4 separate regions of the Homo sapiens genome follow, and regions 1, 3 and 4 are each linked to region 2. Evidence: fine-mapped expression QTL. A gene starts in region 2. Each other region holds a variant in brackets. All regions are shown on one strand. Distances are between the middles of the regions. Region 1 has its middle 59 kb from the start of SMOX. Region 2 holds the start of RNF24 (ring finger protein 24). Region 3 has its middle 65 kb from the start of SMOX. Region 4 has its middle 210 kb from the start of ADRA1D.

Region 1 (6,147 bases), 74 kb before region 2:
GGCTCACTCCTGTAATCCCACCACTTTGGGAGGCCGAGGCAGGCAGATCACTTGAGGTCAAGAGTTCGAGACCAGCCTGGCCAACATGGTGAAACCCTGTCTCTACTAAAAGCACAAAAAATTAGCAAGGCAGGGTGGCACATGCCTGTAATCCCAGCTACTCGGGAGGCTGAGGCAGGAGACCAACCACCTTGGCCTCCCAAAGTGCTGGGGTTACAGGCGTGAGCCACCACACCTTGCCCGTGCAGGTCTTTGGGGGCCATGGAACATAATTTGGACTTTACTGTAAGTGCAGTGGGAAATTCTTGAAAGCTTTTTAGTGTCATAGCCAAATGGTGTTGAGTGAGTGAGTTCTGGTTGCAATGTGCAGTGTGGAAGCAGAAAGACCCATAGGAAGAGGCTGGAGTATATACAGGAAAGAAAATAGATAATCAAATACAAGATTGCATAGCTAAAATGAGAAGTCTGGTGGAAGTTTAATAGGCGGCAAGATCAGTGTGATTTGAGATGGTGAAGCTCTCTTGAATGTGTAATTACACTTTAAGTTCACCCATTACCTCCAGGCTACAGGACCTTGTCTGATTCTCTCTACTTGACAAAGACATGATGGCTGGCTCAAGGCCACAGAAATCAGTCACAGCATCAAGCAGCCCCTTCAGACCAGCTTCCTGGCCTAGCCTTCATGATGCCAAGGTTTCCTAAGGAAGACTACCAAACATCCCCCCAGTAAAGCCACCAAACCCAGGGAGACCCCGTCTCTGCGAAAAATTTAAAAATTAGCTGGGCATGGTGGCACGCACCTCTGGTCCCAGCTACTTGGGAGAATCGCTTGAGCCCAGGAGTTTGAGGCTGCAGTGAGCCATGATTGCACCACTGCACTCCAACCTGGGCAACAGGGCAAGACGCTCTCTCAAAAAAAAAAAAAAAAAAAACCATCAAACCCTTTGCTTGGAAAACTACCTTCAATCTCACCAGCTACGAATTATCACCCTGATCCCTTCTCCCTCCTTTCCTAAGTCCCAACGGGCCGCTTTTGGACAAGCAGCCTAGGGAAAAATTCTATGGGAATCACCACCGTTCTCAGCGGGCCCACGAGAGGGCGAAAGAGAGTCAACGGGCCTGGGACATCTTTTCTCTGGCTCCCAAGAGCAGGGAGGAAGTGGAATCCAGGGCAGGTGTGAGGCCGATTCTGGACTTGGGTGGGTGGGTAGGGGCTGAGATAAGGGAGGCCCCGGGAGCCTGGCAGCTGCTTCCCTTGCCCTCGCCTTCACAGCATGGTAGGAGAGGCCGCTGTCACCCCCACTGCTGGGCAGAAATGTATCTAGCCTTGGCTGACCCCACAAGGACACTGGGTCGCGGCACCTCAGATAAGATTCACTTGGTTGCAAGGCAGCAGGGCTTATATGTCAGTCATCCACAGGCTGCAGGCTGTGGGAGTGGGCGTGACTCCCACTGGGCAAAGGGCAATTCCCTAGAGAAGAGAGAAGGCCCCTGTGACCCAACAGGCACAGCAGCCGCAGATGCACCCTATCCTGCAAAGGGGTCTGGGCGAGGCACCCACAGTGTCCATTTCAGTCCCCTATCGGTTTACTGCTGACCCCAGCCAGCCTCTCTCCTCCTCTTTCCCGGGTAAGAACAGACATGGCCCAGGGTTTTCACATTGGCTGGGACAGTCCATGAAGTTCTAAGGGGTCCTGAGGCCCGACCTCCTGCAGCTGGGATCCTCTGTCGGCTCCCCTTCCCAGGCCCAGGGGAATCTTTCTTACACATTTGCCTCCTCTGGTTTCTCCCTGATGACGCAGGGATTCAGCCATGCTCTTCACTTAATGATTCATGTCTTTTCCTTCAGGGGCCCAGACTAACTTTTTCCTCTTTACAGCTTTGCAAAAACAAAGGTCCCATCCCCACCACCTTATCACTTACACCATAAGGGGTTTGTGACTTTTAACTAAAAGAACCTTTATTACAGCAGAAATGCCATGTGCCAGAGAAGATACCCACCCAGCCCCCAGTGGCTTTGGGAACCTGCAAAACACAGTAAAGGTTGAGAACAACTGAATTTCCAGCATCTTTCCTCATCCTGGGAATTCCTAGGAATCCTCCACTGACCGAGTCAGCACAGAAATGAAATGGAAACTGGAGGCTTAGCCAATCAGATGCTTCCACCCAGCTCTTTGAGCCTGTAGTGAGTGATACAAGAAGCCAAGGACAGTGAACTATTCATCCTGGCAGTGGTGGCAGCAGCAGCATCCTGGGGCCTGGCTACATGGTGGTGATGGCCACAGTGTCCCCCAGATGTTCCAGCAGCATGGTTTTCATCGTGGTCTTGGCTATCCAGCTGCTACCTTTGGTGCCTGCGTGATTTCTGGGTCCAGTCTTCAAGATATTCTGTGAGCTAATCAATACCCTTCCATTAGGTTTTTTGTTTTTTTGTGTTTTTTTTTGCCATAATCAGAGCCTGTTTCTTCTGCTTGCAACTGCGAATGGACTAATACAGAGTCTTTGAAGGGTATGGGCAGGGAGAAATGATGGGACCTGGCTTGTACTTTGAAGAAGTCCTATAGGCTGCTATGTGGCCACGATAGTAGAGCACAGCTACAGCAAATGTGAGTAGACCAGGTAGACAAGTTCCTTGGACTGGGGTGGTGGCAATAGGAAAAGTTGAATGGCGTTTTGGGGGGTGAAAATCAAATTGGCTTGGTGAGGTAACGGATGTCGGAGAAGTGGGAGGAAGGACTCAGGATGTCACCCAGGTTTCTGTCTTTCACAAGTGGGTGTTGCGTTAGATTGATTGCAAAAATGGCCGCAATTCTCCACCCCTCCCTTTGCAATATGA[T/C]TTAGTAACATCTCTCATCAAGAAGCAGAACTTTGCCAGGTGCTGTGGCTCACATCTGTAGTCCCAGCTACTCGGGAGGCTGAGCTGCGAGGACTGCTTGAGCCCAGGAGTTCGAGGCTGTAGTGAGCTATGATTACGCCACCGCACTCCAGTCTGGGTGACAGAGCAAGACCCTGTCTCTAAAGCAAACAAACAAAAGAATCAGAACTTTTTCCCAAACTCTTTCAAGTGAGGCTTGGCTTTGAGAGTTGTTTGACCAAAAGAGTTTGGCAGAAGTGACAGTCTGTCAGTTCCAAGTAAAGACCTTATAAGATCTTGCATGTTTTCATTTGTTTTCCTGAAACCCTGCAATCACTATGTGACTAAGCCTAGACTAGCCTGCTGCATGGCCACGCTATACCAGCCAGCTTCCAGCCAACCCAGCATCTGATTGCAAAAGCCTAGAGAAATAATAAATGGTTAATGCATTAAGCCAGTAAGTTCTGGGGTGGTTTGTTATCCAGCAAGGGCAAACTGATATATATATATATATATATATATACACACACACACACACACACACACATATATATACACATATATATACACACATATATATACATATATATACACACATATATATACATATATATACACATATATATACACATATATATACATATATACACATATATACATATATACACACATATATACATATATACACACACATATATATACACATATATATACATATATATACACATATATATACACATATATATACACATATATATATACACACACACACACAAACACACACCTCCCTATATATATAAAACCATCAGATATATATATGTGTGTGTATATATGTATATGTATGTATGTATATAACATATGTCAGGTATAACATATCAGGTATGTGTGTGTATATATATATACACATATATATATATACACACACAGACACACACCATGGTGTGTGTGTATATATGTATATACATATATATATATGTCCATCCACATCCCAACCAAGCCCACCACCCTCTAGACTTTCAAGGGCTCCTGACTACCTGGACTTTCCACTGTTCTCCTTGGCCCATGAAATTGGATGTCCCTGTCCCAAGGCTGTCTGCAGTACACTCGAACTTGCTCTGCCCTTGAACTTGCTCTTGGGCATATCAGCTGCCCCTTAGGCCAGACCCTGGGCTTTCTGTATCTCAGAAATCTGCTTTTATCCCTGGACCCCACATTAGTCCCTGTTCCTGGCCTTTGGGATTTGCCGTGGTTGTGGTTGGGCCCTCCAACTGGGTGAGGGCCCAACTGCTCACTCCCAGGAGACCAGTACCCACATCCCAGCACAGAGCAGGTGAGAGCTCCCACACTCCTTTTTACCCACTCTCACGGCCTTACTGTGTGCCCTTCTGTAGCTTCTGTGACCCATTGATCTTCCTACAACCTCCCTGGCAGGATCTCTTTGCTCCTCTCCATCCCATATTCAATACCGGGTCCCTGTGGAGCGCCAGGCTCTATACTAAGGACCCTGTGTGGGTCCCCCAAGGGCAGAAACCATCTTTCCCCATCAACTCAAAGTCTCCTAGGCATAAAGGCTGGGGGTGGAGGGCTGAGGACTGACCCAGGACCTCTATTTTGCCTCCTGTAAATAAAGATATCTCAAAATACAGTAAGAAGACCAACTAAGTGGGTGAAACTCCACCAACTGACAGATAATTGTCACATCTTAACTATACATCTTTCCTCGGCAGGCAAGACACATCTAGGCCTGGTGAAGACAGAAACGCTAGTCCCCCCCCTTATTTGCAGGGGATACATTCAAGACCCCCAGTGGATGCCTGAAACCGCAGATAGTACCAAACCCTATACATACTATGGATTTTTCTATATGTACATATCCACCATAAAGTATAATGCATAAATTAAGCACAGTTAAGAGGTTAACAATAATAACTGATAATAAAATAGAACAATTATAACAACTGTTCTATTTTATTCTCAGTTATTATTGTTAATAATAATTATGTTGTGATGATGTTAAGCATCACCACTTTTGCATCCAGGGGTCGTTATTAAATGAAGTAAGGGTTACCTGAACATAAGCACTGCGATACCTCAGCAGTTGATCTGACAGCCAAGACAGCTACCAAGTGACTAATGAGCGGGAAGAATATGCAGCATGGACGTGCTGGACAGAGGGATGATTCACTCTACTCAGCATGGCAGGCAATTTAAAATGGGAGTTGCTCATTTTGTTTTTTGGTTTTCTTTTTCTTTTTCTTTTTCTTTTTTTTTTTTTTTTTGAGACTGAGTCTCACTCTGTCACCCAGGCTGGAGTGCAAGGGTGCAATCTTGGCTCACTGCAACCTCTGCCTTCCAGGTTCAAGCGATTCTCCTGCCTCAGCCTCCCAAGTAGCTGGGACTACAGGCACACACCACCATGCCCAGCTAATTTTTGTATTTTAGTAGAGAAGGGGTTTCACAATGTTGGCCAGGCTAGTCTCAAACTCCTGACCTCAAGTGATCTGCCCGTCCCAGCCTACCAAAGTACTGGGATTACAGGTGTGAGCCACCCCATCTGGCCAAAACATGAATTATTTATTTCTGGAATTTTTCCATTCAATATTTTCAATCTGTGATTGACAGCATCTAACTGAAACCGCAGAATGCAAAATTGCCAATAAGGTGGGGGACTATTGTAATTTTCTTTTTCTTTTGTGAACCACTCCCTCCCAGGGCCAAAAAGAGTCAGATCCTCTGCAGCAGGGGTCTCCAGCTCCCGCAGTACTGATCCATGGCCTGTTAGAAACTGGGCCACACAGCAGGATGTGAGCTGCAAGTGAGTGAGCATTACCGCCTGAGCTCCGCCTCCTGTCAGATCAGCAGCAGCATTAGGTTCTCATAGAAGCACGAACCCTACTGCAAACTGCGCATGTGAGGGATCTAGGTTGCACGCTCCTTATGAGAATCTGATTAATGCCTGATGATCTGAAGTCGAACAGTTTCATCCCAAAACCATCCCCTCCCCCCTACCCCGTCTGAGGAAAAATTGTCTTCCTCAAAACCAATCCCTGGTGCCAAAAAGTTTGGGGACCACTGGTCTACAAAGAATGCGCATGGATCAGGTGGGGACATGCTATGGTTTGAATGTCCCCTCCAAAACTCATGTTGGAATTTAACTCCCATTGTAGCAGGGTTGAGAGGTGGGGCCTTTAAAAGGTTGGTGAATGCCGTTATCAGTCAAATGGGTTAGTTATCCCAGGAGTGGTTTCCTGATAAAAGGATGAGTTTGGCCAGTTTTCTTTCTGTCTCACACA
Region 2 (6,147 bases):
GGGGGGATGAGTAGACTCATGTGCATCACTAAGCAAAGAGGATCAGGGACTAGCAGGTGAACCTCCAGCCGGAAGCACCAGGAGGACAAAAACTGTGATTTCTTCCTTAAGGGGAACACGGGACAACCCGCTACAGGGGACAGAAGAGCAGGATCCTGCCATATGTTGTAGAAACTGTGAGGCCAGATTCCACCTGTCCAGTCCCAAAGGAAAACTTTCTCCTTGACCCTAAAAACCAGTTGGGCCAGTTGATGACACAGCAAAATTTTAATAAGATGAGTCTCCCTGAAAACAGCAACTGGACACGGCCCCTCCTCCTTCCGTTCATTCTCTCATTCTCTTTCCCACTCACCCCTAATTTTTTCAAGAACAAAAGACATGAAATGAGCCACTCCATCCTCTACCCTACAGCCTGATTGGACTAGTGAATTACTAGCCAAGCTTTCTAAACAAACAAACAAAACAGGTTTCCAAACGCAGGGCAGAGGAAGGAAGCCAAAATAAGGAAGAAGAAAGAAAAGGAGCTCAGCCTTTCCTTCTCCTGTGGAGCCTCCCCAGCCCACCAGGGAACATCACCTCCACCAATAGCCACAGCAGACCCACTATGTGCCAGTCACATATTAGGTCCTGGGAGATACTGATCCTGCTGATGAAGGACTCACATGCTGGTGTGGTAAGAAAATATGCAAATGAGCAGGGACCTTGGAGGGTGCCTAGTGCTGAGAGGGAAGTGGGTACAGGGCACAGGTGGGGATTCTCAAGGAAAGTCTGTCAATAAGTGGGGGCAGAAAAAAATACTTTATCAAAAATGACTTTGTAAATACTTTACTTTTTTTTAGAGCAGTTTTAAGTTTGCCACAAAAGTGAGAGGAATGTGCAGAGTTCCCAACTAGCCCTTCCCCCCTACACATACATAGCCCCCCCATTATAAACATTCTCCCACGGGAGCATTTATTACTATTGTTGGACCTACATTGGCACATCATTATCACCCAAAATCCATGTTTACATTAGAGTTTGCTGCTGGTATTATTCATTCTATGGATTTAGACAAATGTGTCATGACAGGTATCCACCATTATGGTATCATACACAGAGTATTTTCACTGCCCTAAAAAGCATCTGTGGATTTTCAGAGAAAAGAGCAACTTTTGCATGCTAGGTAAGTATTGCTTTCCTAGTAGGGGAACAGCAGGAAACAGCAGTCACCTTGGTGACTACTGAGGTGAAACACCATGGTGCTGTTCTGTAAATGGCTGGAAAATAAGGCTCAAGGAGCCAGATGGGGCAGGGAAAAAGAAAAAGACAGAAACACAGGCAGATTTGAATACCATGAGAATCGATTTGCATGAGAATGGATTGAGACTTCTGCAACAGCCCAGGGGAGAGATGAGGGGGCTGATTTAGAACAGTGAGAGGTTTGAGCAAAGCAAAGTTGAAAAGACCCTCCAGGTAACTGCTATGATTGACAGCAAGGAGGGCAGTGTTCCCCCAGCACAGCCCTGGCACAGGCAGCTCTAGAGGAAGCCTGGGTCTCCCACTCCCTTCCTTTTGCCACAGTCTCCCTAGCACATGCCTCCACCCTTCTCTCACTTTGGGGGACTGTGACCATTGGGTGGCAGGTGACTTCTTGAGAAATTCACTAATGTTTCCCTCTTTACTTCCTCCCTGCCTTGGTGGTTAATGGTTTGCCAAAGCAGAAGGAACATGCCTCTAGGCGCTTGCCATGATGACTTTTGCTTCCCAAAGTTAAGCTACTGAGCTGTTTATGGTTTATGTGATGGGGCCTGAGAGATTAGGAGAAGGAAGGAGAACTTCTGGGGGACACATGGAGACTGAGGAAGAGGGGGCAATCATTTTTGCAAGCTCTGAGCTGCAGCGCACACACAGTCAGCTGTGGAGCTTCACAGCCATTCCCTCTGCAGGCTCCTAGCCTCTCCAGAAACTTCCGTACCCCAGGAGTGGCAGACACAAGGCGATGGGAACAAGAGAGTATCTGCAGAATACACTGCCTGCTAAAGACAAGAGAGGACTCCCCAGATCCTTGCCTTGGTATTGCAGGAAGAGCTCAGCCTCCCAAAATCGGAGGTCAATTTATTGCCTGCCCTGTAGAATGGGAGCCGGAGGTTGAGGAGTGGATGTAAATAAAGGAATGCACTGTTTCTTGCACACACCTCTCTCCACTATCTGGGCAGAGTCTAGGTCTCATCCATCACCAAGGTTCTAGCACTCAGCTGAGAGGCTGCAGCAGGAGGGGCAGATGGAGGAGGGTGCGGTGCATACCATCTCCCCATCAAACCAATGGGCACCACGTGACCATTCTTGTGTCTCTGGGGACTGTCAATCTGCATGCTAGGAAAGGGGTGGCATTCCAATCTTTCATTTTTTTGTGTGTGAGACGGAGTCTTGCTCTGTCACCCAGGCTGGAGTGCAATGGTGCGATCTTGGCTCACTGCAACCTCCGCTCCCCGGGTTCAAGAGATTTTCCTGCCTTAGCCTCCCGAGTAGCTGGGATTACAGGCATGAGCCACCACACCCAGCTAATTTTGTATTTTTAGTAGAGACAGAGTTTCTCTATGTTGGTCAGGCTGGTCTGGAACTCCTGACCTCAGGTGATCCACCCGCCTTGGCCTCCCAAAGTGTTGGGATTACAGGCGTGAGCCACTGCGCCCGGCCCCATGCTTTCACTTTTAAAAATGCTTGTAGGGCACGCAAAAATACTAAACGGTCGATGGAGAAGGTCTGTCTGGAGTAGTTGTTTTTTTTTTTTTTTTTTGAGACAGAGTCTCGCTCTGTCGCCCAGGCTGGTGTGCAGTGGCACGATCTCGGCTCACTGCAAGCTCCGCCTCCCAGGTTCAGGCGATTCTCCTGCCTCAGCCTCCCAAGTAGCTGGGACTACAGGCGCCCGCCACCACACCCGGCTAATTTAATTTTTTGTATTTTTAGTAGAGACGGGGTTTCATCGCGTTAGCCAAGATGGTCTCGATCTCCTGACCTCGTGATCTGCCCGCCTCAGCCTCCCAAAGTGCTGGGATTACAGGCGTGAGCCACCTCGCCCGGCCTGTCTGGCGTAGTTCTAACCAGGAACAGAGCCAGCGGCCAGGGCCGCACCAGGCCTGGCCAGGGAGCGCCGCGCCTGCGCACTGCAGACTCTGAAGCCGCCGAGCCCTCCGCCGAGGTGGGTGGGGAAACTGCCCGGGCATCCGGGTCCCTCACCCCGCCCCCGCTGCATGAATGAGAGGCGCGGCGCCCGCCCCTCCCCCGGCGGGCCCGCCCCTCGCGAGGGGCCGCCGGGCGCAGTCAGCCGCCGCCACCTCCGCCGCGCTCTGTCCGGACGGACGCTCGCCGCCCGCAGCCTGCCGCCCGCCGCAGGGCGCTGACGGTCCCGCACGTCTGCCGCTGCCACCGGCGCGCCCGAGTAAGTGAGCGAGCGAGGGCGGGAGCGCCGCGGCCGCCGCCCCCGGGCTGGGGTTTGGGGGACCGAGCCGCTCCGGGTTCGGGATGCTGAGGAGACCGCGGGCCCGCGCCAGCCTCCCACACACACACACTCTCCCGGCGCCTCGGCCGGCCGGGCGCGGTGTGCAGGGGTGAGGCGGTGTCTCCAGGCTGAGGAGGGACGCGGAGGAGGGTCCGGCGCGGCCCCGGGACTGGAGGGTGAGTCCCTCACAAAGGGCGGAGCGGGGCTGTCACCTGGAGATCACGGAGGGAAGGTGCGTGGGCCCCCGCACGTCCTGCTCGCCCAAGCCCTGGCATCGGGTCCCCGGGCGTGGGAGGCGGCTGGGATGAGCTGGGAGGCTAGGAGGAGGATGGCGAGGACGCTGCCCCCGCGTTGGCGGTGGGCGCGCGCCTTGGGGGGTGCGGCGTGGCAGTGTTTTCCTGGTCCCCGTCCACTCCTCCCCTTTCTTTGTGGCGCTTGTCTCGTGCCCCGTTGTCACAGTGTGCATGGCAGTGGTCGGGGTGGAGACCTCTTCCCTCGGCTTACTCATTAATGAAAGTCACCATCTGTGGGCAGGGGGCGTGTGTGGTTCCACAGGCCGGAGAATTAAGGACCCTCCTTTGTTTCTGGAGACCTAATGATGTGTGTGTGTGTGTGTGTGTGTGTGTGTGTGTGTGTGCGCATTCAAGTGAAAGGGACATCTATGAAATGAGAGAATCAGAGATTGTCAAAAAGGGTATGAGGAAAAGGGGAGGGGATATAACTTCATCACACCTTTACCCAATTCTTTACCTGATGTTATTTCAAACAGTTTTTTCTCACTGTAAAACCAGTGGGTTTTATTCATTGGAAATGTGCATCTAAATTCTCATATATCTGTGTTTCTAGAATACTTTGCCTTTTTGGGCTTAGTTAATGGTAAGATTCTCATGTCTGTCTACATAGGAATACTCCACCGTACAGGACACTGCTTTCTGGGTTTAGTTCATTGATAATTTGTCCGAATGCTCATAAACATGTCTATAGGAATACTCCAATATATCTAGGACACAGTTTTCTCCGCTCCTGAATACAGGCAGATTTTGTTTCTTTCTGCCTCCCTGTGTTAATGAGAAGGTAGTCCAGCAGGTTCTCTCTACCTCCTTGCTTTTTTTTCCCCTTAATGCTTTGGCAGAGGGTTTTATTGCATATTACCCTGGCATGCGCCCTTGCTTTGATGTGAATTTTCCTGTGTTCTGTTGTCTGGTTGTACAGCCCAGCTCAATGGCTCCTCTTACAGGACTACTGGAAAACAGAACACCTTTTTTCATTGTCCTCATCTCCAGAGAGAGAAGGAAGCGCTGTAGGTTCCCACAAACGTTGACTCTGTCAGACTGCCTGCCTGACTTTGTTGTGTTGGTAAAGTTATGAAGAGTTGCAGTTGTTGTAGACCAATTAAAAAGAGGCTATTGGGATAACACCAGCTCTTCCTTGCTATTTTGGTTTTAAAACAAATGATATGAATTTTGCAAGATAGTTGTTAACTCTGGTTGCATGATGATTTTCAGTTTCTTTTTACCCATATACTTTTACAGGGTGTTGGGAAATTAGCCACTCATTTACAAGAAACACACCTCCAAGGTATTTTTATTATGGGTCGGGTGCGGTGGCTCACACCTGTAATCCCAGCACTTTGGGGGGCCGAGGTGGGTGGATCACCAGAGGTCAGAAGTTTGAGACCAGCCTGGCCAACATGGTGAAACCCTGTCTCTACTAAAAAAATACAAAAAATTAGCCGGGCATGGTGGCGAGCGCCTGTAATTCCAGCTACTCGGGAGGCTGAGGCAGGAGAATCGCTTGAACTCCCGGAGGCGGAGGTTGCAGTGAGCCTAGATCGCGCCATTGCATTCCAGCCTGGGCAACAAGAGCGAAACTCCGTCTGAAAAAAAAGCTATTTTTATTATGATCTTTGGATTCAAAATAGCGGTTTTAAAAAATTAAGAGGCGCTTATATTGGATGATATGAATAATTGTATGGGTTCTGTTTTCTTTAAGATTCTCTGTAATATTTTTAAAAATCACATGTATTTTAATTCCTAGTAGTTTTCAGTGGAAAATGAAATGTAAACTAAGCAGTCTTCCACAGCATCTGTTTATGTATATTCCCTCTGTTTAAAACATTTGCTTTTAATTTGAAGGGGAAATTTTCCATGGTCAGTTCAGGATACATTATTCTTAGTAAAATTCTTACCACGTTCAAATTCTTTTTTGTAAGAGTAAAAAAAAATTAATGAAAGTTGATTTTTCAATTGGGGATGTTTTGGTTTTAATGCATGATTTAAATAAAATCTTAATATCAATTAATTTAATTCAGATAAGTTAATTTAAAACAAGGCTTTTATGAAGGAAAAATGAAGCAGAAAAAAAAAAACAAGAGCTTTACTAACTAAAGTCACTAATGTTGAAGTAACCCAGTACATTTATAAACTGCCTGTCTTGACTGCATAAGACATTTTTTAGGAGTCTCCTTAAAACAAACCGTAAGGGGAAGTCTTAGATAAACAGAGTAGCATAACCGGAATTATCACTGAAATAAGCTTGCACAGTATCGCAATTTCATGGAAGTTTAATTTTGCAAGAGTGACTTAGCTATTTTTAATATCAACAAAGGAACCTAAACACAGCCTGGCCTTGTTATTCAGCATTCTGTTAATCAAAGTATTTGCCAACCC
Region 3 (6,147 bases), 68 kb before region 2:
ATACAACCCATCTGCCTCAGGTGTCCACACCATGGAGGCAGAATGTCATGGGCTTGCTGTCAGACCATGTCAGATCATGCTGGGAGATAAATTCCCACCATTAACTCAGAACATGGTGGTGCTGGTTGTGGGGTCCTATGGCCAGAGCCTATGCCCTCGCTGTCCATGATAGCTGCATGGGGGGTGTAGGCTGGCACCAGCTACAGATGCCCTGAGAGCTGCTGTCCAAAGAGCTGTTCTGAAGAAGCTTTGCTGAGGGGCACAGGGCCGTGGGGGGAGAGAGAGGCAGCCGTGGGGGCGCCCCAGATGTTGCCCCATGCCCTTCCAGGGCCTGCCTGGAACTGAAGACACGAGCCCTTGTGAGAGTCAGAGGCACTCGGTCGGGCGCGGTGGCTCACGCCTGTAATCCCAGCACTTTGGGAGGCCGAGGCGGGCGGATCACGAGGTCAGGAGATCAAAACCATCCTGGTTAACACGGTGAAACCCTGTATCTACTAAAAATACAAAAAAATTAGCCGGGCGTGGTGGCGGGCGCCTGTAGTCCCAGCTACTCGGGAGACTGAGGCAGGAGAATGGCGTGAACCCAGGAGGCGGAGCTTGCAGTGAGCCGAGATCGCGCCACTGCACTCCAGCCTGGGCGACAGAGCGAGACTCCGTCTCAAAAAAAAAAAAAAAAAAAGTCAGAGGCACTCATCTGAGTTCCCACTTCAAATTGGCAGAGGTCAGGGAGGAGTCCCCACGATAGGACCTACAGGCTGGCAAAGAACGTGCAGGTGGAGGAGGCAAGACAGTGAGGTCACACCAAGGGGCCGGAGAGAGGTCATTCCATGACTGATGTTCTTGGAATCCGGAATCTGCCCTGCGTGCACAAAAATGCCCTCGGAGAGCACGGGGCTGGGGAGCTGGCAGAATCTTCACAGATGCTGAAGAGAGGCACAGCGCAGGCCCTCCCCTGAGTCTTCCCTGATGAAAAAAGGAGGCCAAGGGCAAAGCGGAGAGTGCCGGAGAGCCCTCATTCCTGTTCCCTCGCCACCTGGGGCCCGGGAACCAGACGGACCCTGCGTTAGGATGTGCCGTTGCTGCCTGACTTAAGGCTGGAAAAATACCACGCCCAAGGGTTGGCAGGGGGCTGTGGCTGACCACCAGGGGGCAGCTGTGAGCCCCATGGCCAGGCACGCGCATAGCTCTCTTCAGGGAAAGCAAGCCAGGCTTTCACTGACTGAGACCCTGCTTTAAAAATCTCAGCCAGTAGCTGCTCCCCTGAGCCCATAAGGAGTCCTCAGGTTGAGAGGTGTGCGATGTCCTCCAAGAAACCTTTGTCCCAATAGGCAGACCCCTAAATACCCCAACCACGTTTCAGTACCAAAAATGGGATCCTATACTTTAAAAACCTGACCTTGGTGTGACCCCTAACCCTGGCCTCAGACTTCCCCCAAACCCATTGCAATCCTTCATTTATTTAACCAGTATTTATTTAGCATCTACTATATACCAGCAGCCTATTAGACACCTGGGATTCTTCAGTGAACAAATCAGACAAAGACCCCTGCCCTCCTGGGACTTCTATTCTCTGAAAGGAAGGTGCCATTGAACCATCCACAGTTGCCCGTGATTGGCCAGAATGATTTGGGTGGCTCTGAATGAAGCCATCATGCAATTCAGCTTCGGACAGGTGACTCAAGTGGTTCTAAGGAGCCTCGCCTTACAGCTTGAGCATTAGGCCTCCTGACCATCAGACCCAGAGAGAGTGATGAAGACTGAGGACATCTGAGTCTAGGAGAGACTTCAACTTTTTGGCGTGTGACTTCCATTTCTTTCTCTCAAAAGTAGAGGATAGTGCCTTATTCTTTGAAATTTGCAATGTACTGCCTTTCGACTACAGGGCTTTCACAGAGCAGAAATCTGTTGCTTATTTGATCTGAAACTTCAGTGCTCAGAGAAAATATTCACCTCGGTCTCATTGCATCATTCTCTGAAGAAGGGCCTCTGGGTACCAGTGGCCAAAATCTCATCCTCTTATTCCAAAGATTGGTTCCCCTCTCTGTCTTCTCTCTCTGCGTGTTTATGGCACCATTCTTCCCCAGAGACCTCAGCTGGAAATCTCAGCCTCATATCTAATTCCTCTCTCTTTCTTCCCCAGATCAATCCAGACACCCATCAGTTCTACCTTCTAAATGCCTCTTGATCCTGTTCTCTCCTCTCCACCCCATAGCCACTGCACTGGCCAGGCCACCATCTTTGCTCACCCACACAATTGCCATGTCACAGTTGATCCCCAGATTCCTGTTCTGAAGATACTACTGTCAAGCCCCTGTGCATGGTGTCCTTCAGGCTCATTCGCTTCACCTGAGGGCCCAACCAGGCAAGCTCTCTCCCTGCTGCCTCCTGCCATCCCTACTTACCCCTCTGGACCTCTGCTCCTCTCCTGGCACCTGTACTTCCTGCAGCTCCTCTCTAAAATTTACCAAAATACTCTATCTCCACTTTCACCCTCCCAGGAAGCTCTCCCCAACCAGGCCATTCAAGTAATTCCTTCCTCTATAGCATCTTATTCTTCACTATCCAAGCTTACCTGGGGCAAAGTCCTGTGTTCCCGCAAAACTGTGAGCTCCTGAAGTCAGAGTCAGTCTTTGTCTCCTCTTTGGCCTCAACTAGTGCCTGGTCCCCATGAAGGACCTAGAAGATACCTGCTGCATGGCAGATAGAGCTAAAGGCATCAGTGGCATGGTTAAATCAACCTATGACACCTCAACTCTCAGAAATATGGAGTAGATGTGTTTTTTCCTATTCTTTCCAGTAAATATGGCTAAAAACCCTAGATACTGCCTATAAAACAAGCATCTGAAAGCAGAGAGAAGAAGGCAAACCAGCTAGGGACTTTGGGGCCTAGGGAATGACACAGCAATGAGTTCTCTGGGTTTATCTTTTTGGCTCATATATCCCAGACAGTGTGCAAAGAAGCCAGCATTCTGGAAACAACAATGGGAATAGATGCCCCACAAAAGCCCAAGAAAATCCTGCTCTGCTTGCCAAAGGACCAAGATGGAGTGGCCTAGCAAAACAGAAAACTTTTAGACAATGATCGTTCTGTGCCAGCCAAATACCATAGGAAAAAATGTAAGACCCCACCCCCACCCGCACCATCAAAGGCTGAGTGGGGAGCCTCGGCTTCATGGCTAGGCTCAGGCTGGACTTCACGGCTTCAGGCTATCATGAGGTTTCAATCTCCTTCCCCCTGGCCAGGCTAGTGTCAGAAAAAGCTGGGTGGGAAGCCAGGACTTTTATCCCGCTGGGCAGCAATGAGGTCTCCCTTCCCAGGGGTGTCAGTGGAGACCACATGGGAAGCCTGGACTTTCATTCCCAGCTGGTGGTAACGGAGCACCCCTCCTCCTCTCCCCCGCCCTCCTCCTCTCCCCCGCCCTCCTCCTCTCCCCCGCCCCCCTCCTCTCCCCCGCCCCCCTCCTCTCCCCCGCCCCCCTCCTCTCCCCCGCCCCCTCTCCAGTGGTCTCAGAGGAAGCCTGGTGGAGACTCAGGACTTTCGCAACTGCCAAACGGTAACAAGGCTATCCTGCTTCCCCACAGTATCAGTGGAGGTCACATGTGAAGCAGTGACAAGGGA[A/T]CTCTGCCCCTCCCAGCCAGGGTGTTGTCGATGGAGACCTAGTAGGAAGCCTGAACCCTACCCACTGCCCAACAGTGATGAGGCGCTCCTTCCCTGACCCTGACTGTCAACAGAGGCAGAGTGGGGAACCTGGACCTTCACCTCACCTGACAGGAACAAAGTAGCAGCCCCTTTCCCTAGAGCAAGTCAGAGGAGGCCTCTGCTAAATCAGATTTAAAGAAGCTCCAAGGTCTCACAACAGAAACTCAAAATGTTGAGGTTTCCGTTGAAAATGACTCATCAAACCAAGAACCAAGAAAACCTCAAATTGAATTAGGAAAAATAATCAACAGACACCAGTGCCTAGGTGACATGGATATTAGAATTGTCTGACAAGAATTTCAAAGCAGCCATCATGAAAATGCTTCAATGAGCAACTACAAACCCTTGAAAAAAACACACAAAAATAGAAAGTCTCAGCAAAGGAACAGAAAGTCGTGGGTCTCAGCAAAGAAACAGGAGACATAAAAAAGAACCAAATGGAGGCCAGGCACAGTGGCTCATGCCTGTAATCCCAACACTTTGGGAGGCTGAGACGGGTGGATCATTTGAGGTCAGGGGCTCAAGACCAGCCTGGCCAACATGGTGGAAACCCCATCTCTACTAAAAATACAAAAATTAGCCAGGCGTGGGGGTGCCTGCCTCTAATCCCAGGTACTCAAGAGGCTGAGACAGAAGAATCCCTTAAACCCAGGAGGTGGAGCTTGCAGTGAGCCGAGATGTTTGCGCCACTGCACTCCAGCCTGGGCGACAGACCAAGACTCCTTCTCAAAAAAAAAAAAAGAACTAAATGGAAATTTTAGAACCAAAATATACATCAACAAAATTTAAAATTCAATGGATGGATTGAACAGCAAAATAGAGATGACAGCATAAAGAATTAGTGAACTTGAAAATAGAACAATAAGATTACCCAATCCAAGCAACAGAGAGAAAATAGTAGAGAAAAAAATGAACAGAACCCAAGAGACTTGTGAGGCTGTAACAAAAGATCTAACATTTGTGTCACTAGAGACCCAGGTGGAGAGGTGAAAGGATCTACATTTGAAAAAGTATTTGAAGAAATAATGGCTAAAAATGTCCCAAATTTGACAAAAGACATGAACCGACAGATTCAGGAAGCTAAGTGAAACTCAAACAGGATAAACCCCAAGAAGTTCAAATCAAAACATATCTTGGCCAAACTTCTAAAAACTAAAGCCAAAAAAAAAAAAAAAAGTCTTGAAAGCAGAGAGAAATGACGCATTGCCTACAGGAGAAAAATAATTGGAAAGACGTCAGATTTCTTATCAGAAACCCTAAAGTCCAGAAGAGAGTGGCACATTTCTTTTCTAGTGCTGAAAAGAAAAAAAGGAACTCTCAACCCAGAATTCTATATCCAGTAAAAAGATTATTCAAGAATGACGGGAATCCAGATGTTCTCAGATTAGGAGAACCAGGAGAATTTGTTGTCAGCACCTGCCATTTAGGAATGACTAAAAAGAAGTTGTCTAAACAGAAAGGAAATGATGAACAAAGGAATTTTTCTTTTTTCTTTTTTTTTTTTTTTGTTGAGACAGAGTCTCGTTCTGTCACCAGGCTGGAGTGCAGTGGTGCAATCTCAGCTCACTGCAACATCTGCCTCCCAGATTCAAGCGATTCTTCTGTCTCAGCCTCCTGAGTAGCTGGGACTACAGGCACACGCCACCATGCCCGGCTAAATTTTTTGTATTTTTAGTAGAGACGGGATTTCACCATATTGGCAAGGCTGGGCTCGAACTCCTGACCTCATGATCCACCAGCCTCGACCTCCCAAAGTGCTGGGATTACAGGCGTGAGCCACCACACCTGGCTGAATGAAGGATCTTAGAACAACAGTAAAGAAGAAAGAACAATGAAAAGCACAAAAATATGGATAAATACAACAGACTTTCCTTATCCTCTTGAGTTTTCTTTCTTTCTTTCTTCCTTTCTTTTTTTTTTTTTTTTTTAGATGGAGTCTTGCCCTGTCGCCAGGCTGAAGTGCAATGGCGTGATCTTGGCCTCCCGAGTTCGAGCGATTCTCCTGCCTCAGCCTCCCAAGTAGCTGGGACTACAGGCACGCGCCACCAGGCCCAGCTAATTTTTGTATTTTTAGTAGAGTCGGGATTTCACCACGTTGGCCAGCATGGTCTCGATCTCTTGACCTCATGATCCACCTGCCTCGGCCTCCCAAAGTGCTGGGATTACAGGCATGAGCCACCGTGCCAGGCCTCTTCTTTAGATACAGTGATGGGGTCTCACTATATTACCCAGACTGGTCTTGAACTCTTAGGCTCAAGCAGTCCTCCTGCCTCGGCCTCTCAGTGTTGGGATTACAGGCATGAGCCTCTTGATTTTTCTAAATTATGTTTGACAGTTAAAGTAAAAAATGTACTTTGGGATGCCAACGCGGGCGGATCACCTGAGGTCAGGACTTCAAGACCATCCTGGCCAACATGGTGAAACCCCGTCTCTACTAAAATTACAAA
Region 4 (6,147 bases), 450 kb before region 2:
TTGGAAGGTGCAGAGAACACCAGCATTGAAGTGAGGCAGTGAGACAGGGATGGGAAGGGAGCCAGTAAAGGGTTCATTCTTAGGACAGCTACTACAAAGGGCAACCAGAGCTTCATCTCTAGTGGAGACCTCTGATTGCAAGTGTAGAGCACATGCCTTAGAGTTTTCTCACCCAAGAAGCAGAAGATCTAGGATAGCTGTACAGTAGTTCTGGGCAGACCATGGTTGAGGTCTGCTCCCAGAAGAGTTGATACCAGCCCTTGCAGCTGCCCTACGATGAGTGTGGGTAGAGTGGCCTTCAGGGAATTTAGAGAGAACCCTCACACAGAATAGAGATACTGGCAGTCAAGAGTGGGAAGGGGCTCTGTGAAGTAGTAAGGCCTAAGTGCTATGGACAGGGCCAGTGTCTGCTCCTGGTTCTTCATGCTGTTTGTCCAATGCACACCAATCCCCGTAAAATAACTTCTGGGATTTAAAAAAAAATCCCACTTTCTGGATCCTTGAAGCAAAACAAACAAACAAAACATGTTTGAAAAGCTCAAGCTAAATCATCTCTTCCCTCCTCCTGGAACATCCAGCAACTCAGGGCAATCCAACATGGTCCCCAGGGCCATCTTTTCTTACCTAGCCTGCCTCTCCTGGGGATAATTAACTTCACTGCCTTTGGCATAGCCCATTTTTCAACCAAACAGTTTGAGGGGGAAAAAATTTATTATTTCATGGAGCAAACAGTTACTGAGCAGCTCCTCTGTTCTCCCAGCAGGGCCGTTAAACACAGTAGTTATAGTACTTTGTGTTTTTTTGCCATTCACAAGCAGCTTCCTCCCTCCTGCAAATTCCCATCACAACAAATCTGTGGTCATGCACAGCCACTCCACTACTCTTAGGCCTAAGCCTAACTATGGGTTCTACCCTTAGAATTTCCCAACACTAATTCCTCAAACTTTCATATTTGTCATCATAAAGTATATAAAAATGATGACATGAATGATTGAAACAATATAATTAGTAAACTATAATTAATAACTATTTCAAACTTTGTCTTATGCAGTTATTATTTATCTTATAAAGCATATTGTATTTGCGTTGCAAAATACAGTTTCCTGCTAATTAGCCACAGGATATTAAAAAGTATTGAAAAATGTAGTCAGGCATGAGAAAAATAATAACAAAAATCATAAGTCAGAAAGATGAATATATGCAATCTATGTTCTCAAAGGAAAGTATAACAACTGGAAACAACAACAAAAGATTAAACAAATTTTATGAATACTCTTTTGAATAAATTTCTGATTAATGAGGAAATAAAGGGATTTGAAAACAGCTAATTGAAAAATAATGAGAATCAGAATAATTCACATTTAAGATTATGGAATATGCGTAAAGTTGTTCTCAATAAATTGTAGTATTAAATGCATGTTACATTTTTAAAAGTAAAAGCAAGAGAAAATAATTTCAACTAAAAAGTGAAGAAAAAAGGAACAAAGGAAGCAGAAATAAATATATTAAAATATAAAAACAAAAAGTAAAATTAGCAGCAGGAAAACGCACAATGGCATGAATAGATAGTGAATCTCAGAGAACGTCTTTGAAAAGAATCAGTAAAATGGCCCAGCTGCTGGAAAATCTAATTTTAAAATGCCATAATCAAAATGAAAAAAGGAAAGAAAAAAATGGCTAGAACTTATATAAAAGTTTTTAAAAATTACAGTATAATTAAGTGCTTTTATTTTGAAAATCATTTAAGATGGAAATTGTATTAAGAAATTTAGATGACTAGAATTGACTCAATTGGAATCACATGGTTAAATCACTTAAGGAAGAAATTAAGAAAGTTAAAGAATTATTCTCTCACCCCAAAGAAGGTGATTGTAGGCTGAAACATTATAAAGCAATGGCAATTAAAACTGGTTCTGGGGATGGAATAGACAGATTGGGCCAGCTAGAATGCTTTGGCAGCAAGAAACAGAAAAATCTGCTTGAAATTAATTGAAACATTAAGGAAATATATTACCTTATGTTATCAGGAAGTCCACAGGTTGGTGGCTCCAAGCAGCACATAATCAATGCCTCGAGGATGTCACCAAGAAGCCCAGTTCCTACCAGGTCTCCACTTAGCATCCTGACCGTGCTGGCCCTGGGCATGGTTGCAAAGTAACTGTGGCAGTTTCAGGCATCATATCCAGACATGATAAGATCTGCAGAAAGGAAGAGTCTGCATCTTCCTTGGGGTTCCATTTAAGGGTGAGAGACTTTTGCCCTATGCCAGCAGATATTGCCTCACATCTCAATGGCCAGCAACGGGTCACACATCCATCCCTAAAATCTTTGGCAAGGGAGTGCCTTAACCATGGTTAGATAATTAAAGACATTGGGTATTGAATTATTCAAACCAATACACAGATTGTTAGAATGAAG[A/G]CTCCATGTCCGCTCTTGGTGTGTTTCAGGAGTGTTTTAAACTTTTCCTCATGTAAGTTTACATGATTCTTGTGAAGTTTATATTTAGATATTTATATTTTCTGTTGCTAATAAAAACAAAAGCATCTATGCCACTACATTTTCCAACTCATTGCTGTTGTTATATATGAAAGCTATAGATTCCTACGTATTAATTTTTATAGCCCATTTATTTGCTGCAGTCTCTTTTTGTTTGTAAAGATTTTCAGTCGATTCTTTTAGATTTTCCAGGCCATATTATCCACAAATAGGGAGAATTTAACCTTCTTTTTCCCAGTGTTTATAAATGAAGTATCATGCTTTTGTCCAATAAAAGTGGCAAATACTTCCAGCACAATATTAAATGGAAAAGGTAATAATGAGCATCCTTACTGTGTTCCTAATTCTACTGTTTACAAATTTCTTTTTAAAAAGTGTTTTAAGAATGGGTCAAATGCCTTTTCAGCATCAATATGTTAAAAATTTTCTCCTAAAATCTATTAATATGTTGTATTAGTCTGTTTTCACACTGCTATAAAAAATACCCAAGACTGGGTAATTTATAAAGGAAAGAGGCTTAATTGAGTCACAGTTCCACATGGCTGGGGAGGCCTCAGGAAACTTGCAATCATGGCAGAAGGGGAAGCAAGACAAGTCTTACACGGCAGCAGGAGAGACTAGGGCAAGGGGGAACTTCCAAACACTTTCAAAACATCAGCTCTCATGAGAACTTCCTCACTATCAAGAGAACAGCATGGGGGAAACTGTTGCCATGATTCAATCACCTCCCACCAGGTCCCTCCCTCAATACCTGGGGATTACAAATGGAGATGAGATTTGGGTGGGGACACAAAGTGAAACCATATCATATGCTGACTTGTAATGAATACCTTTCCTAATACTAATCTATCCTGGCATTTCTGAAATGGAAACTTTGTGGTCCTGCTACTAGTCTTTTAATGAGCTGTTTGAATCTAATTGCTGTTGTTATATTTACAACTGTAATATGTATATTTGCAAGTGAGATTAACATGTAGGTTTTTTTGTACAATTTTTGTTACATGTTGGTGTCAACGTTATCCACCTTATATAAAAAATTTTGCAACTTTTTATATGTCCTGGAAAAGTTCAAATAGCATTGTAATAACCTATCCTATGGAAGCTTAGTAATAATTCTTATGTGAAACTATCTGGGCTGATATATATGTTCTATGAGTTGATGGAGGCTTATTCTTTAAATACTTTATTTCTCTAATGAAAACTTGTCCATATAGTTTTGTTTCATGTAATCATTGTGTTTCTTCTGGAATTAATTTTAGTAAATTATATCTTCCAAGAAAATTATTTATTACATCCAAGTTTTAGAATTTCATTCACATTTGCATATTGAAAACCTACTTGTATAGAATTGTACAAATAGCCTTATTTTTTAAAATTATTAAGTTGTTGAGGTTATTTTCTTTTGCCTTTTCTTATTGTTTGTGCTTCCTCCCTTTTGCTTGATTAAATTTACTGCTTGTCAATCTATTTCATTCATTTTTTAAGAGAAATAGATCCTAATTTGTTAATTCTACAATTCTTCTAATGCATTGATTTTTGCTTCCATCACTATAAAATTCTTCCTTCTTCTTTTAGTTTATTTTGTGTTTTCTCCCTATTTTTTAAAGTTAGATACTTGGCCGGGCACGGTGGCTCATGCCTGTAATCCTAGCACTTTGGCAGGCCAAGGCGGGCGGATCATCTGAGTCGGGAGTTTGCGACCAGCCTGACCAACATGGAGAAACCCTGTCTCTACTAAAAATACAAAATAAGCCAGGTGTGGTGGCCCACACCTGTAATCCCAGCTACTAGGGAGGCTGAGGCAGGAGAATCGCTTGAACCTGGGAGGCAGAGGTTGCGGTGAGCCAAGATCGCGCCATTGCACTCCAGCCTGGGCAACAAGAGCGAAACTCCGTCCCAAAATAAATAAATAAATAAAATAAAATAAAATAAAATAAAATAAAGTTAGATACTTAATGCATTGATTTACTTAGTTTTAATTTTGTTGATATAAGTATTTAAGACTAAAATTTTTCTGAGCTCTGCTCTGCTTATGTCTCACAGTTCTGATGTGTATTTTATTTCTCATTGTTTTCTGGAAACAATGAGTAAACATAAATGTACTTGCAAATTATCTGGGTATCTTATAAAATGTAGACGCCAACTAAGACCTGGGGCACCCAGGATTCTGCATTACTAACAAGCTCACAAGAGAAACAGATGCTGCTGTTTACAGACTGCAATTTAAATAGCAAAAATAAGGGTTTTATTTTAATTCCCAGTTTTTTTCTGATGTTATTAATTTCTAGTTTCATTGCAATGTGATGATGTGATTGGAGATCATTGCCTGTATTATACTTGCTTCTTCAAATTCATTGAGCTTTTCTGGTGGCTAATATGGGGTCAGTTATCATCAATGATCATGTGCTTTTGTCAAGAAGATGCACTTATTGTTATTAGGATGCAGAGTTCCACCTATATCTACCTCGTTGCTTATTTTCCTTAGTTAATTTTTGTCCACTTGATCTTTCTTGGACCAAGAATGTTAAATTAAAATCCCCTATTGTTAGTGTGTTCCTGTTTCTTTCTCTTTGTAGCTCCTGTACTTTTGCTTTATCAAACTGTATCATTTGGTACTTAGGTACATAGAAATTCAAAGTATTATGTCTTTTTGATAATTGTCACCTTTTTGGAATGATATACTATGTCCTTGCATAGGAATATTCAACATCTAATGAGTCATTTCCCCTCATTAGTTTATTGGAATCATATTAAATTTATATTAATTTAATTTTATTAATTTAATTATTTTAGAATTAATTTAATATTTAATTAATATGATTCTTTTAAAAATACTAACAGCTTACCGGGTATTTTTTCCCTAGAACTAGACAAACTAGTTCTAAAGTTGATTTGGAAAAATAAGCAAAAGGAGCCAAGAAGATTCTGAAAAGGTCTGGCTCTACCAGGAATTAAAAGTATGGTCAAACTTCAATTAACTACAATGATGTGCTACTGGTTCATGGATAGAAAGATGGATACATGGAATAGAAATATAAGCCTTGAAATGAATCCAGATACACATGGGAATTTAGTATATGATAAAGGTGGCATCTCAAATATATAAAGATTTTTTTTTCCAAAAGTGTATTGGAACAATTGAGGAACCATGTGATGAAAGATAAAGCTGGATCCATATCTCTACTACACGTTCCAAAATAATATAAATGTAAAAAATAAAATAAAATAATTAAGAAGAAAAGATAGGTTATTTTACATTAGAGTAGGAAAGATTGTCTAAAAATAATGCAAAAGTTCACAGTTATAAAATAAAGCTTTGATAAATTGTGTTAAATTAATAATACAAAGCTGTCACATGACCAAAATACCACATAAAAAGTCAAAAGACAAATGAAAAAATGCTCCCCAAATTGCAACTCATAGAGAAATGCCTAATCTTAATATAGAAAAAGCTACTGGAAATTAAGAAAGAATAATGCAACAAGCCAATAAAAATTTGATTTCAAAAAATGAAGACAATTTACAGATTAAGAAATAAAAGGTGGCCTATTAAAATATGAAAAGATGCTCAATGTCTACAAAAAAGGGTCAAACTCTGTAAAATATTTAAAGAGGCTTATTCCAAGCCAAATGTGAGGACCGTGATCTGTG

The links. PIP is the estimated chance that this variant, and not a neighbour inherited with it, causes the effect.
Region 1: its variant is fine-mapped to the expression of RNF24 in whole blood (TOPMed, PIP above 0.99).
Region 3: its variant is fine-mapped to the expression of RNF24 in whole blood (TOPMed, PIP above 0.99). The same link has a PIP of 0.9 or more in blood mononuclear cells.
Region 4: its variant is fine-mapped to the expression of RNF24 in cerebral cortex (GTEx, PIP 0.96).

What each region holds. Positions count from the first base shown.
Region 1 is chr20:4,086,992-4,093,138 of GRCh38, reverse strand. No RefSeq gene overlaps it. Among named protein-coding and RNA genes, the nearest start is that of SMOX, 59 kb to the left of the region's middle. The variant T/C (reference allele first, on the strand shown) is at 2,837.
Region 2 is chr20:4,012,708-4,018,854 of GRCh38, reverse strand. RNF24 (ring finger protein 24) reads left to right here and starts at 3,297. Exons shown (of 6, transcript NM_001134337.3): 1 at 3,297-3,418. RefSeq lists enhancers at 1,570-2,171, 2,375-3,307 and a silencer at 3,191-3,790.
Region 3 is chr20:4,080,426-4,086,572 of GRCh38, reverse strand. No RefSeq gene overlaps it. Among named protein-coding and RNA genes, the nearest start is that of SMOX, 65 kb to the left of the region's middle. RefSeq lists enhancers at 3,222-3,721, 3,722-4,223, 4,137-4,336 and a cis regulatory region at 3,155-3,852. The variant A/T (reference allele first, on the strand shown) is at 3,620.
Region 4 is chr20:4,459,984-4,466,130 of GRCh38, reverse strand. No RefSeq gene overlaps it. Among named protein-coding and RNA genes, the nearest start is that of ADRA1D, 210 kb to the right of the region's middle. The variant A/G (reference allele first, on the strand shown) is at 2,419.